Regions from separate parts of the Homo sapiens genome. Here region 2 is reported to be linked to region 1. Evidence: microRNA targets listed by miRTarBase, many of them from high-throughput screens and not tested one by one. Region 1 holds a microRNA gene; the other region holds the end of a gene's coding sequence.

The links. The annotated mature microRNA hsa-miR-4729 reads UCAUUUAUCUGUUGGGAAGCUA and lies in region 1 at 3,806-3,827, shown strand. An mRNA with a match to its seed (bases 2 to 7 or 8) in the 3' UTR can be bound and repressed. Matches are read on the target gene's strand: a 7mer-m8 pairs with bases 2 to 8, a 7mer-A1 pairs with bases 2 to 7 and ends in A, and an 8mer does both.
Region 2: the mRNA of LIMS1 is a reported target of hsa-miR-4729. Seed matches in the 3' UTR shown: 8mer at 1,914-1,921, 8mer at 2,338-2,345 and 7mer-m8 at 3,927-3,933.

The regions. Positions count from the first base shown.
Region 1 is chr17:59,362,287-59,369,286 of GRCh38, forward strand. It overlaps MIR4729 (microRNA 4729), which reads left to right and starts at 3,797; the gene lies at 3,797-3,868. The region is part of intron 2 of YPEL2 (yippee like 2); the gene reads left to right. RefSeq lists enhancers at 3,366-4,135, 4,136-4,905 and a silencer at 5,462-5,756.
Region 2 is chr2:108,683,294-108,690,425 of GRCh38, forward strand. It overlaps LIMS1 (LIM zinc finger domain containing 1), which reads left to right. Exons shown (of 10, transcript NM_001193483.3): 10 at 592-3,953. The coding sequence ends at 706. Among named protein-coding and RNA genes, the nearest start is that of LIMS1-AS1, 8.3 kb to the left of the region's middle.

The DNA of each region.
Region 1 (7,000 bases):
GTTTATCATGTGTAGGCATGGACAAGGGGAATTGGGTTCAGGAAGTCACATGCTTTAAATGGGAGGCAGACCTGTCGCACAGTCACGCCTGCTCCCTGTGAAAATTAATGATCTGGGCACACATAGAGTTGCTCACCAATTTAGTATCAAGGGAGCTGCTGGGACCAAATCTGGTGAATCATCTTTATGTTTTGTTTTTCTTTTGCTGCAGACTGCAGGCAGCTGGAGCACAAAATCTGCTCAAATGTGATTCTTTCTGTGTGGTTACTTTAAATACCAAAAGGAAATGTTGACTTGAGCGATGAGGCGTACCCTGAAAATTAACTCTGTGGTTTGCAGATGCCTTTAAGGTTCCAATCATAAGACTGGTTTGTATATTAGCGTCTAGGCTCTCAGCAGGGACACTGGTAATCAAGCTTGTGTTCCCAGTCAGAAATCCAAAGAAACTCTTTTTCATCAGGGTGTTCAACCTGGGAAGCAAGGAGTGGGTGCAGGATCCCTCTGTTTCTGTTTGAGCAGTGGCACTCCCTCTGGCCTCTGGAATGGTAAATCTGCACCATTGCTAGCTTGGCTGTTTGCGTTTGGGGGCTGACTAGAATCCACTGTCATACACTACTTGTTCAGTTCAATATTTCTTGTGCTTTAAACAACATTTAAACCTAGATGGTAGGGATAAGATGATTCCTGCACTTAAAGAGCCTGTGATGTTTAGGAAACAAGGGAATGCAAGGCTCACCATGGAGGGTAGAAGAATGTTACAGATAAGGTTGTTTGGTGTTGTAACAAACACACAAGATGGAAAATCTATGTTGCTGCTATTAGCTACTATTGATTGAACACCTTCTTAGTTTCTATGTATATATAGATATATATATAGAGAGAGAGAGAGACAGGGTCTCGCTATGTTGCCTAGACTGGTCTCAAACTCCTGACCTCAAGCAGACTTCCCACCTCAGCATCCCAAAGTGTTGGGATTACAGGTGAGCCACCACACTGGTCCTAAAGACTTACCCTTTTTTTTTTTCTTTTTTTTTTTTTTGAGATGGAGTCCCACTCCGTTGCCCAAGCTGCAGTGCAGTGGCGTGATCTCTGCTCACTGCAGCCTCCGCCTTTTGGGTTCGAGCAATTCTCCTGCCTCAGCCTCCCAAGTAGCTGGGATTACAGGCATCCGCCACCAGGCCCGGCTAATTTTTGTATTTTTAGTAAAGGTGTGGTTTCACCATGTTGGCCAGGCTGCTCTCGAACTCCTGACCTGACCTCAAGTGATCCACCTGCCTCAGCCTCCCAAAATGCTGGGATTACAGGCATGAGCCGCCGCACCCAGCTGAACACTTTCCTCTTTATTGAGCACCTACTGTGTGCCAGGAACTCCTTTAGGTATTTTACTTACTCCATCACTTATTTTACAACATCCTTTCAATGTGGGGATTAAGGCCATAGGTTACCAGGTTACCAAGAAGCCAGATGGGTTCAGATTCAGATCTGCTCATGTACTTTTTGCTACCGCTTCGCAGTGTGGCCTAGGTTCTTTTGGCCTTGCCTATTTTATGGTCTTACTCAGTAATCCTTGTGGCAAATCCCACCCTTTCTTCCCTCCTGTCATTTCCTTTGCCTTGGTGAATCCTTCTCCTTTCCTCTCTCTCTATTCAGTTCCTACCCATTCTTGAAGACCAGTTCACATCTTTTTTTCTTCTAGTGAGTCTTCCTGGCTTATAGGATGCTCTGAATGTCTGTAGAACTCACTCTCTGGTTGTTCATTTGGAAATTAATGACTGTCTTGTGGTATGGTCTGTGTTGTTATGGTTGCGTGCACTTTTTATGTATAATTGTCTTGCTTCCTAACAAGATTCTCAATGTCCTGGAGTCATAGATGCTCAGAACTTTGTGGCTGGAGGTACCTTTGAACCTGGAGTTTCTAGTTCAACTCCTCATTTTACAGATTAGGAAACCAAGGCCCAGAGAGAAACTGAGGGCCTCTTGATTTTGCACTTTGCCACCTCCCCCGACACACCACTTTGCACATAGCTGGTGCACATAGCCCTGGGAGAGGGCTGGCATCTGGAAGATTGACAGTGTCAAGCGCTGTGATCTTGGGCAAGACTGTTCATCTCTCTGGCTCTCCCTTTTCTTCATTTATCCAAATGAGTGCAATAGGTTAGACTGTCTTTAAAGTTCCTTCTACTTCCCCCCTGCGTCTTCTGAGTCTAATGTAGTAGCATAAGATGATATGAGGCCATATAACATAGCAGCTCGTGGTATAACTCCGAGCCCAACCACCTGGCTTATTCATTTAGTAGCTGTGTACATTAAGTAATCCCTCTGTGTCTTTTTTTTTTTTTTTTTTTTTTTGAGACAGAGTCTCGCTCTATCACCCAGGCTGGAGTGCAATGGCACGATCTTAGCTCACTGCAACCTCCACCTCCCGAGTTGAAGCAATTCTCCTATTCAGCCTCCCAAGTAGCTGGATTACAGGTGCCTGCCACCACATCGGCTATTTATTTATTTATTTGTTTATTTCATTTTTTGTAGAAGATGGGGTTTCGCCATGTTGGCCAGGCTGATCTCGAACTCCTGACCTCAGGTGATCCACTGGCCTCGGCCTCCCAAAGTGCTGGGATTACGGGTATGAGCCACTGCGCCCATCCGCCTTTGCGTCTTAATGGCCTCACTGGCAAATGGGAATAATAGTAATATTAGATACCTGATAGGATTTTTGTGGAAATTAAATGAGGTTATTGATGTGAAGTTCTTACCACAGGGCCTGGCACGTGATAAGTGCTCAATAAATGTTGGAAGCTAGTGTTATTCTATGAATAGTCACTAAAGAAAACCAAATGGAAAGTGACAGAACTAGGGCCTGGCACCCCAACAAGCCTGGCACTCTTGCTTGTTGCCCTTGTTTTTGGAGAGTCTCAGCAGTTGCCCTTGAGCCCTACAGTTGTCATCTGTCGTCTTTTGAGGCCTCTCCTCATGGAATCGCTTGTTCCTTATCCCAGGGGGACCAGCAGGTCTCAGGAGGTGATGAAATAGCAGCAGCACCTTCCACCACAGCTTTCTGGGGCCTTACCTGCAGGCAGCAGCGAAGCCTCTCTAGAATGTAAATGGAAAAGCCTGTCCCTGCCTCCTTCCCTTTTAGTCTGTCAGGTGGTTACTGTGCCTCTGACCCACCCGAGGACCTCAGTTGGCTGTGACACAGCAGCCCAGGCGGCTGGAAGAGAAGTCCCTGGCCTGGAGAGTGAAGCTGGAGCTGAGAGTTGCTTGTCAGTTTGATTCCTTCTGTGACACTTCGGGTGGGGGGGAATCTTTTGAAAGAAACCACTTTCTTTATCTTGAAAGAACAAAACCAAAAGAGAATCTCTGATAACCTTTGTTTCCAAAGCACTCAGCAAAGCTGCTGAGAGGAGGGTTTGACCTGGTGACCCAGAGTATTATCTCTGGGGTAAGGGCTGCCCAGCCAAGGGGAGCTTTAGCTGTTTCCCTCCTCTCCCTGGCTTATTGCTGGTGGCTGGACAGTGAGTTGGAGGAGGAGGGGGAGAGGAAGAGAGGAGGAGATGGCTCTGCCAGCTGCCGCTAGAAACAACAACATCTAATCAGTCCATAAACTCCCTCCCCTCCAGACTACAGTGATGTCAAGAGGTGGAGCAGGTGGCACTAGTTCTCCCCTCCCCTTTAGCCCCTGACACCTTTGGGTCTTTGAAGGGGTAAATTATGATCATCAAAAGGAAAATTCTCTATCTTTGGGGGCCCAGGAGCTCCTTTTCCTTCTTGTTAGGGTTGGCTCCACCAAGAGCAATTTTCTGTTTCCTCATTTATCTGTTGGGAAGCTAACTGTGACCTTAGCGTCCCAGCAGATAAATGAGGAAACAGAAAAGTGTTTCCTCACCAAAACAAAAAATCCCTGAGCAAACCCTCCTGCAGAGGGCCCTGTCATTTATTCCACATTGTGTGAGCTCCTCTTACGTGTTAGACCCTGGGAATTACAGTGGCAAACAGATGCAAGCTTTGCCTTCACTGAGCCTGTCACACGGTACCCTTTGGTTCCTGGAAGACCCAGCACCTGAAAAAGCGGTTGGTGGCAGCAGCAACAAGGATCTCCTTCCTGAGCCTGGCCCCTAAGGTTATCCGGGGCAGCTGAAAAACCAGCATTTCCATAGTGCTTTCCATTCAGTTTGCCTAATTTTCATGAGAGGCTGAAGTGCCTTTTGTTTCCCTGATGGTCCCTGTCCTCCCCTGCAGAGTCGGCCTGAGCTAGCCCAGCCGAGTCGGGCAGCCCCTTGTTCTCTGATGCATCTTTGGAGGAATGTCTGTATTCTCAGGACCAGGCCTCTCCCCACTGGGTGGGGGCTGCTTTGTTTACATTCCTGACCTTCTGAAAGCTGCCAGCTTTATCCACAGCTGGCCTTTCCCCTTCAGATGCCAAATGTTCCAAACGACAGGTACAACTCTGAGAGGGCCGTTAAGGTTCATGCCAGAAACATTCACCTAGGAAGCCTGAGGAGAGAGGAAGCCAGTGAAACTAGACTTCATGGAGCTTTTTGAAGCTCGAAGCCCCCATATTTCTTGATTCTTCCCGCAGCGGGAGAAAAAAAGAAAAAACACAAAGTGTGTCTGTGTGGGAGGAGAGTTCCTCCCTGTCCATCTCTTTCTCTATAAAAACAAGAGGCCAACCTGCTCTGAGCATCGTGGGGGCAGGTGCTGGGTAAATACACGAGAAAGGAAAGCCAATAAGATAAGGTCTGACAAATCTAGGTCACCCGGCTGCTGCCAGGTACCTGTGTGACTGGCCACCTTGAAACTGACAGGAGGAGTATGGACTTTTGTTCGAGGCTCAGCCTGGCTGATTTCTCATGTCTTTGTTTATTTATTCAGTAAACATTAATTGAGTGCCATTATGTGCCAGGCCATGTGCTAGGTGTTGCAGGTCCCTGTGTGCCTCTGACAGGCAAAATCTCCTCCTGGATCCCAGGCCTGTAACCAGGGCTAAAAAAAGAAATGACTTCATTCAAAAGCCAGTTGGTTCACTAACTTCCAGAGTAGGGGCAGCCAGTCCCTTGGTAGAAGGGAGGGGCTGTTTGCAGTCTTGATTCCCTGTTTTTTGGGCTAGATCCAAAGGTCTGCAAAACTTTTTCTATAAAGGCCAGATAGTATTTTACGCTTTGCTGGACATAGGGTCTCCACTCAAATCTGCAGCCACAGAGAATATATAAACAAATGAGCATGGATGTTTTCCAGAAAAACTTTATTTGCAAAACAGGTGAAAGGCCCAATTAGGCCCTTGGACTGGTTTACTTAACCCTAGGTAAGATGATTAGAATGACTGTTGTGAAATGGGTGTTGGAGAAATAGGTTTCTGTGATTTCAAGAGGAATCTCAAACCAGCATGGTGGCTTGTATGAAGAGTGTAGGGGTTGAGGCACTGTGCTAATTGACAAGGTCTTAATTGACACCCTGGTGAGAATTCTATTCCATAGGCCAGACTTCAGCCCCAGCCGTCTAGCACCCACAGGTTCCCACCATAGGTTACAAGGTGATCAAGCCAGATAGGGCACATAGTTTCCTACAGTGTCATCACTGTAATGGGAAGACAGTGTGGGGCCCTGCTGAGGAGAGTCTGTGGCACCATTTGAAAAGCCTTGAATGAGGGTCAAGCCACCTCTGCTCCAGACCTGGCTTTGTGCTAAATTTTCAGTGTGGCATTGAGCAAGTCACTTAACCTCCCTCATCACCCTGCATATATTAAATCCTACTGTATGAAGCACTGGGGATACAGAAATGGATACAAATACAGAAATGGATGAAATTCTCTTTTTTTTTTGAGACAGAGTCTCACTCTGTTGCCCAGGCTAGAGTACAGAGGCATGATCACAACTCACTGCAGCCACAACTTCCCAGGCTCAGATGATCTTTTCACCTTAGTCTCCTGAGTAGCTGGGACTACAGACATGCGCCACCATGTCCGGCTAATTTTTCTATTTTTTGTAGAGATGAGGTTTCTCCATATTGCCCAGGGTGGTCTAAAATTCCTGGGCTCAAGTGATCAGCCCGCCTTGGCCTGCCAAAGTGCTGGGATTGCAGGCGTGAACCGTGCACTTGCCTGGAATTCTTGCCCTTAAGTAGCTTATGATCTAATGGGGAAGGCAAATAGATAAACAGTGATAAAATGTAGTGAAACACAGTCATTGTTTCACTGTAAGTGATTGTTCCAGATGTTATGAGGGTAAAGAGCAGGATGAATGTTTACTAAGATGAGTGTTTAGAAGCATTTACTAAGTGGACAAGAAGACGAAGACAAGAGGAGTCCATTCTGAGCAGAGACAGAGAAACATGACACGAGGCCAAGTCCAGGGACCACAGGGAAGACAGATGGGGAGTCTGTGCTTTAGGGAAGCAGGTCAGGGTGGATCATGCAAGGCCTAGAAGGCCAAACTAAGGAGTTTAGACAGAGTTCTGGATGCTGTGAGGAGCTGCTAAAAGGTTTTAAGCAAAGGAGTGATAGGATTTTATTGAGATTGGATGAGAATAAAACATAGCCTATTTTGGAAAATCAACTTCTTTAGCTTCTGTAAACCATGTATCCTTGAGCTTTGTGTGATTATACAATGTTGATGTTGTGGAGTAGTGGGCATTGATAACATGCCATAGCTGTTTAAAAATAGTCAGGCTGGGTCCCTCCTTGGTGGTGCCTTCAGCTAAATAGCAAGCAGGTAGATCACTGGCAAACAGCAGGCAGTCATAACTCTAAGAAGAGGGCCTTTGTTAGTTCATGGAGGTCTGGGGGTTTGCAGGTCCTGGGCCCTCTGTCTCATCTGACACTCCTGGCTTCTTGAGTAAGGCTCCCCAAATCATTGAAAGCGGGCAATTGCAACTCCCTGTTGATGAGTTTTTCTCTAAATTTAAAGAGAGAATTCAGTTGCAGAATTCCAGTGGCTTTGGTGTAGCCATGAGGTTTGGAATACGGCCAAGTGAAGGTGGAAATAAGTAGCTTCTGCAGTCTTTATGT
Region 2 (7,132 bases), not on the chromosome of region 1:
TCTTTCCTTTAGATAAATTTATCTTTAAGGTATTCTAAAATGTGATTACCATCCTAGGCAATACGACAGGACCCTGTCTCTACAAAAAAAAATTTTTAAGTTAGCCAGGCATAGTAGTATGCACTTGTGTCCCAGCTATTCAGGAGGCTGAGGTGGGAGGATGGCTTGAGTCCAGGAGTTAGAGGCTGCAGGGAGCTGTGATCACCACTGCACTCCAGCCTGAGTGACAGTCGAGGCTCTGTTTCCAAAAAAAAAAAAAAAAAAAAGTGATTGACTGTACTTAAGTTAATTATATTTACATTAGATTTCCTGTTTACTTAGTACTGAATAAAATGTAATCTACAGTCTGTGTTACACAGATGGATGTATAGAACCAATTTATAAGGACTTTTTTTTAAAATTATACTGAATTTTTATATATATATCACAATAAGAATTGAGGTTAGGATTATGGTTTTTTTACTAACATGAATATAATATCATCACCTAGTTGCCTTCGTTTAGTTCAGTACAATTACTGCACATCATTTATATATCTTTGTTGAATATGTTTCCACTAACTTCTTTTTTTTTATAATTTTTTGTCTTTAGGAATAAGTTTGTGGAGTTTGACATGAAGCCAGTCTGTAAGAAGTGCTATGAGAAATTTCCATTGGAGCTGAAGAAAAGACTTAAGAAACTAGCTGAGACCTTAGGAAGGAAATAAGTTCCTTTATTTTTTCTTTTCTATGCAAGATAAGAGATTACCAACATTACTTGTCTTGATCTACCCATATTTAAAGCTATATCTCAAAGCAGTTGAGAGAAGAGGACCTATATGAATGGTTTTATGTCATTTTTTTAATTAAAAAAGAAAAATTCATATAATCGTGTTTAAAACACAAATGAAGTCAGTATTTGCCTTTGTTAACCCTTATCCATTTGTTGACATGTAGACTGTTTACAAAAAAAAAACACATGGTTAAATGTTAAATTTTAATTAAGGCCCCCAAAAATTAAATATAACTTTTTAAAATGAAAGGAGTCACCTTTTACATGACTCAGGTGAAAAAACAGTATAAACATTAATTTACTTTGTGTTCAAAAGAAAATTCCAACTGCTGTTGGGGAAGGACACAGAAAAGAAAAATAACCACCCAAGAAAAACAAAAACAAGAAAAACAAATCTTATACAATCTTAGTATATTTATCAAACTAGTAGCTAGAAAGTGAATATGCACATTACTAAGACAAAAAACAAGTGTAATTCAGAACTACTTGATTTTTTTTAGTTAAATGCAATAATTATTATGCTTAGTTTTATAACCTGCTCTCCTTGTGAATTCTTCCTTCAAATGATTACTTAACGCAGTAGTAATAGCTAGCTGTAGGATGTCCTTTAAATTTTTGTGCAAAAAAAAATTTATACCAGGTATTTGGAAATATACTTTACAATATTGGAAAATGAAGTATTTTTAATGTATTACAGCAATTATGTTTCTAAGCTTAATGTTAAGCATGTAGTCTTAGAATAGGACATGAAATTAAATTGTATGTAGCTTGGAATATATTGCTTCAGAAAACTGAATGTGTATGTCGGTCATATTGCCTTTATAACCATGCTAATATCTATGCTTTATACATACTCAAACTTGCCTTGCCTTAAAAACATACATACTACATACTTAAATCAGGAATTCTAGCCATCTCACAGAATACCAACTAAAACTAAGTGCATTGAGATCTGAGATTGGTAAACCCAGATTCATTTACCACAGCTGTAATTAAGTTTTTAGAAACTATTCTCTTTTTGGGGAAATCCATTGAAGTTAATTTCTGTTATCTTATTAGAAGAAAATGATGTTGATATGTGTTTCAGATTTTCCATTTGAAATCTTATAATTAATTTGATTTATTTACTGTAAGTAGGAGGTATAAATGACACTCTTAAATTGGAAGGAGGGGTGTTTTAGTGTCTGTTTTAGGTCAAAATTAGTGATTCTATTTTTATCAAAAGTTTTATCCTGAAGTTTCAGGACCACTCTTCCTTAATAAACTTGTTAATGGAAAGCGAGCTTTATGAACATTTAAAAATGTTGCTGCTGCTTTGTTGCTTAAAAAGAAAGTTGCCAAGAGAGACTTCTTAGGGAAAATATTTGGGTTTTTTTTCCAAAAATTGCTGAAATATTGTTTTGCCATTTTTAAAAAGTCTCAGGTTATTACCACTCTGCCATTAAATATTTGTATGCCTGCATTTTTAAAAATTCTGTGCATGTACTTTATGGAGTACATTCTATTTTTGTTTTCAGATACCCTACAACCAATTTTTTTTAGTAATCTTTTAGAATTGAAATTATCATAAATGATCGAGAATAATCATCACATAGTTTAAGATTGTATATGTTGAGTAGTTTAAAACAATCTTTGCATTTTACAGTAAGAATCAAAGTCCCTTCAGTGTGCCTTTGTCAGCTAATATGTGACCAGCAATGACAACCTTGGGAGTATTTATTAAATATTATGCTATGAATATAGGCAACACAGAACAGGGTTTGCAGTATAGCGTCTTGATGCTAAATTCTCATATACCTCTACACGAGAAATATGGAGGAGAAAAACAAGCATTTACATATATTCTTCGTCACTTTGAAGATGCATGGCCTGAACTCGACTGCTTGTGTTTGTTTACATATCAGGCATACCCAGGCATCTCCTGCAGCCAGAGGTTCCATTGCTGTCTTTGCTCAGTCCTCTTTTAAAATATGAATTAGTGGACAGGCACGGTGCCTCACACCTGTAATCCCAGCACTTTGGGAGGTCGAGGCAGGTGGATCACGAGGTCAGGAGATCAAGACCATCCTGGCTACCACTGAAACCCCATCTCTACTACAAAAAAATTAGCCGGGCGTGGTGGCGGGCACCTGCAGTCCCAGCTACTCGGGAGGCTGAGGCAGGAGAATGGTGGGAACCCGGGAGGCAGAGCTTGCAGTGAGCCAAGATCACGCCACTGCACTCCAGCCTGGGCAACAGAGCAAGACTCTGTCTCAAAAAAAATAAATAAATAAATTATGAATGAGTATTTTCTAGAAATTCAACTTGCTAAGCCTGTAATACTTAAGGGTAGTTTATCTAGATACAGTACTTTCTTCCCTGATAAGTAGTATCATTGGAGCCCTTAGGTATAGGAGAAGAGGAAGAAGTTTAAAAAGTGTAAGTGGGCCGGGCGTGGTGGCTCATGCCTGTAATCCCAGCACTTTGGGAGGCCGAGGGGGGCGGATCACGAGGTCAGGAGATCCAGACTATCCTGGCTAACAAGGTGAAACCCCGTCTCTACTAAAAATACAAAAAAAAACATTAGCCAGGCGTGGTGGCGGGCGCTTGTAGTCCCAGCTACTCGGGAGGCTGAGGTAGGAGAATGGCTTGAACCCAGGAGGCGGAGCTTGCAGTGAGCCGAGATTGCACCACTGCACTCCAGCCTGGGCGACAGAGCAAGACTCCGTCTCAAAAAAAAAAAAAAAGTGTAAGTGGATTAAAAGAGAAACTTGGTCTAGTTCATAATATTTTTAATAGGGCTTTCCCTGGCTGCTGGAAAACTTAGGCCAGTAAGCATCTCTTTGTTTAAAGTCCTACAAGACAATTTGAAATAATTCATTGTTCATGCCAAAATTCTAAGTACTGTTTTTCTTAGCAAGTGTAACATAATCAGGAACAATGGGTACAAGTAAAACATTCTTTGGATGATATTCAAAGCCTTATTAGCACTGCACCTGAATAATAGGTCATTTTGCCTCACTCATTTGCCAAAGTAGCCATTTCTAAGTTAAGGAAGTTTTTAGATAGGCTCATAGCCTTGTATTTCGTTTTAGATTGTAAGCTCAATGGCAGGGATACTATATTGGTAATTATGTTTTCATATAGCAACCACCACAGTATATTCTTGGTGCTTAATAAATGTTTATAATTGTTAACAATAACCTGTTGTATATTGTTTATTTTGAATGGTATATATGTGAAATACATATGAAAATTGAAGTATTCATGAATATATAATAGAAACAAGTAAATGAATAAAATGACCTGGTTACTATAGATAAGCCAAATTTTGAACCATCTAGAACAATGGTGTAGTCTTCCCTCTACTCAATGTAAATGCTGGGTTTTTTAATTATTATTATTATTAAGAAGGAGATACAGTCCAGGCACAGTGGCTCACACCTGTAATCCCAGCACTTTGGGAGGCCGAGGCCAGTGGATCACTTGAGGTCAGGAGTTTGAGACCAGCCTGGCCAACACAGTGAAACCTCATCTCTATTAAAAATACAAAAATTAATAGGGCGTGGTGGTGTGCACCTGTAGTCCCAGCTACTTGGGAGGCTGAGGCAGTAGAATCACTTGAATCCAGGGGGCAGAGGTTGCAGTGCAATGGTGTGCTGGGATTACAGGCAATGAGCCACTGTGCCCTGCCCTCAGCTGGAGTGCAATGGTGCAATTAAGTTCTTTCTTTTTCAACTCAAAATTTGTCTGCATCTTTACCCAAATATCCAGATCTGATACTCTAGGCTTGGGCTAATATAGTGGGGTGGAGGAGGCTTGGGTTAAGGTTTAAAGTTCCAAGGGCTGAACCGGAATAAATGGTGTATTTATCAAGGGAAGAGCAAGGCAAAACCAGCAAGTCCAAACCATGGAGGCCTCAACCGAGGTGAGGGGAAAAGTTAGGGAGCCTTAGGAAAGCTCTGAGGAGGGACCCCAATTAGGGGGACCGTAGTTAGGGTATGAGGTTTGTGAGATCAGGACTGGAATTGCTGCAAGAGACCCTATGATTGGGTGGCAGCAGCACGTTGTGGAGATGAGCCTGCTTCCTCAGCCTCTTCCTCTTGTCAGAACCCTTTGCCTCTCCCTACACACGCACACACACATGCATGCACCATGCTACAGAAACCTTTCTCAGTCTTGCCATTCTCTCAAATTATGCTTTGGTCTTCCCTTCATCTTCAGATTCTTTAAAGAGAATCAAAGTTCCCACTTCTAGCATGATGAAGTGAGGAGGTCAACAAATCTTTCCAAAATGTAACTGTATAGCTGGACAAACCATTTAGCATTCTGTAATTTTACCAAAGGCACCGCACAAATGGGGATGTGTTTAAGAATGAAAGCTGGCCAGGCGCGGTGGCTCACGCCTGTAATCCCAGCACTTTGGGAGGCTGAAGCAGAAGGACCACTTGAGCTCAGGAGTTCAAAAACAGCCTGGGCAACTTGGTGAGACCCCCGTCTGTACAAAAAAAAAATCAAAAAAGGCATGGTGGTGCACACTTGTGGTCCCAGCTACATGGGAGGCTAAGGCGGGAGAATCATTTGAGCCCAGGAGATTGAGGCTGCAGTGAGCTGTGATCACACCACTGCACTCCAACCTGGGCAACAGAGTGAGACAGACCCTGTCCCTAAAGAAAAAAAAGAAGAATTAAAGTGAGCCTTGGATAAGACCAGCCTGTGTCTGTGGCATCTTTGCCCAGGCTGCTACCCCCATTTACCCCAGCTGTTGATAACACACACAGCGGCCCCCAGCAGGGCAGCCTGTGGAGATAAGCTCCCCTGCCACCTCGTTGCAGGGGCTGGAGGCAAGAGTGAGGAAGGTTTTGATTTGCAGCATGGCTAGTTAAGGTGGTGATATCAGTGACCAGGAGGAAGAAAGGCCACTGACTCCTAGCCTGAGGCTCTGGGCCTTTGGAGACGAGCAAATGACCTGCAGATTAGTCATGGATGTAAGAGGGAGCTCCGGGAGGTCGGAGAGCCAGAGGGAGCTTAGTAAACTCTTCACACTACCCAAATGGACTGAAGGCTCATAGCTGGCAGAGATTAGAGCAAGCCCAAGCCATGTCCATATGCCCAGGGCACACAGCCTGTGTGTGTGCCGGTGCCAGTGTTAGGAAGTAAAAGCCGGAACACCCTTGCAAATGGCCCGGGGCGTGCCTCCTCCCCATTGCACATAGATCCAGCAGCAGATGGTGGAAACCATATTGGCTTTAACTGATGTTTGACAAACTATGCAAACAAGAAGCGACCTCTAAGAAGCCATTCTGAAAAATTAAAGCAAACAAATGCCAACAATAAAACTGAACAATGACCTGAGTGAGTGCACACTGTGGAGGAGACAGGCTTCCTGCATGGAGTCCAGCCAGGAGACAGTACAGAATGCATGGAGCAGCTATTGGAAGACAGTGAAAACTAAATAGTTGCAGGCAGCTTTCCCAAGAAGACCAGAACTTGAAGTACCACCAAACCAGTGGTGAGATAACCATGTTTCCCCTACGGCATCCCGTGACTAACCTGGCAGTGGGCACCAGGGTGCAGATAGAAAGAGCTCCAGAAGATGCCCTCTATTTCTGGCTCAAGTAACGGGAAAAGGGTCTCCTAACATTCCGAGGGAATCCAGAAGTTCGTTCCTCCCCATTTTTCTTTTCCCTGTTCTCTCATACCTCAGCCCACAAGCAGTCCCACAGTGGCACTGGCACCAGCCCCAAGAGGAGCCCAGGAGCCAAGATGTAGGAGGGAACCTTCTCCAACTGACAGAGCTGTGGTCCCAAGAGGGCAGAAACAATCCATGTTGCTTCTCTTCCAATTCAGTCCTCCCACTTCTTGGCTTCAGATGTAGAAATGCATGGTAGAGCCAGATACCGAAAGCCTGTTTTCTGCTTGGAAGACTAAAAAGAGAAGCCTCAGCAAATGAAAGCAACAGGGTAATTGCTGAGAGAGAGTTAATCAGTGAAGCAACCCCATTAACCTGTCTATAAACCCCAGGGCTCATTCTTGAGCTGCTCCTGCATAGATCTCGTCCTGTTCAACACACCAAAGATTGACAGCTGAACTGAGAGACCATCACCCACAGACACAACTGGCCACTGGGTGGTGCACAAGTCAGACAGAACTGAATAGTCCTGTGAAGACTTTGGACACTGAACTGACTTTGGAACCAGACTGCAGAATGGAGGGGTGGGAACTTGTGGCTTGAACCTAATCAGGTAGATTGCCTGGCCAAAATGAAAATACCTATCATCTCCATAGGATTTAATTTCATTCAATGATTTTTTTTTTAGTAAATTTGCAATGTTTTACAGCCATCCCCAAAATCTAATTCCAAAATATCTCTATCACCCCA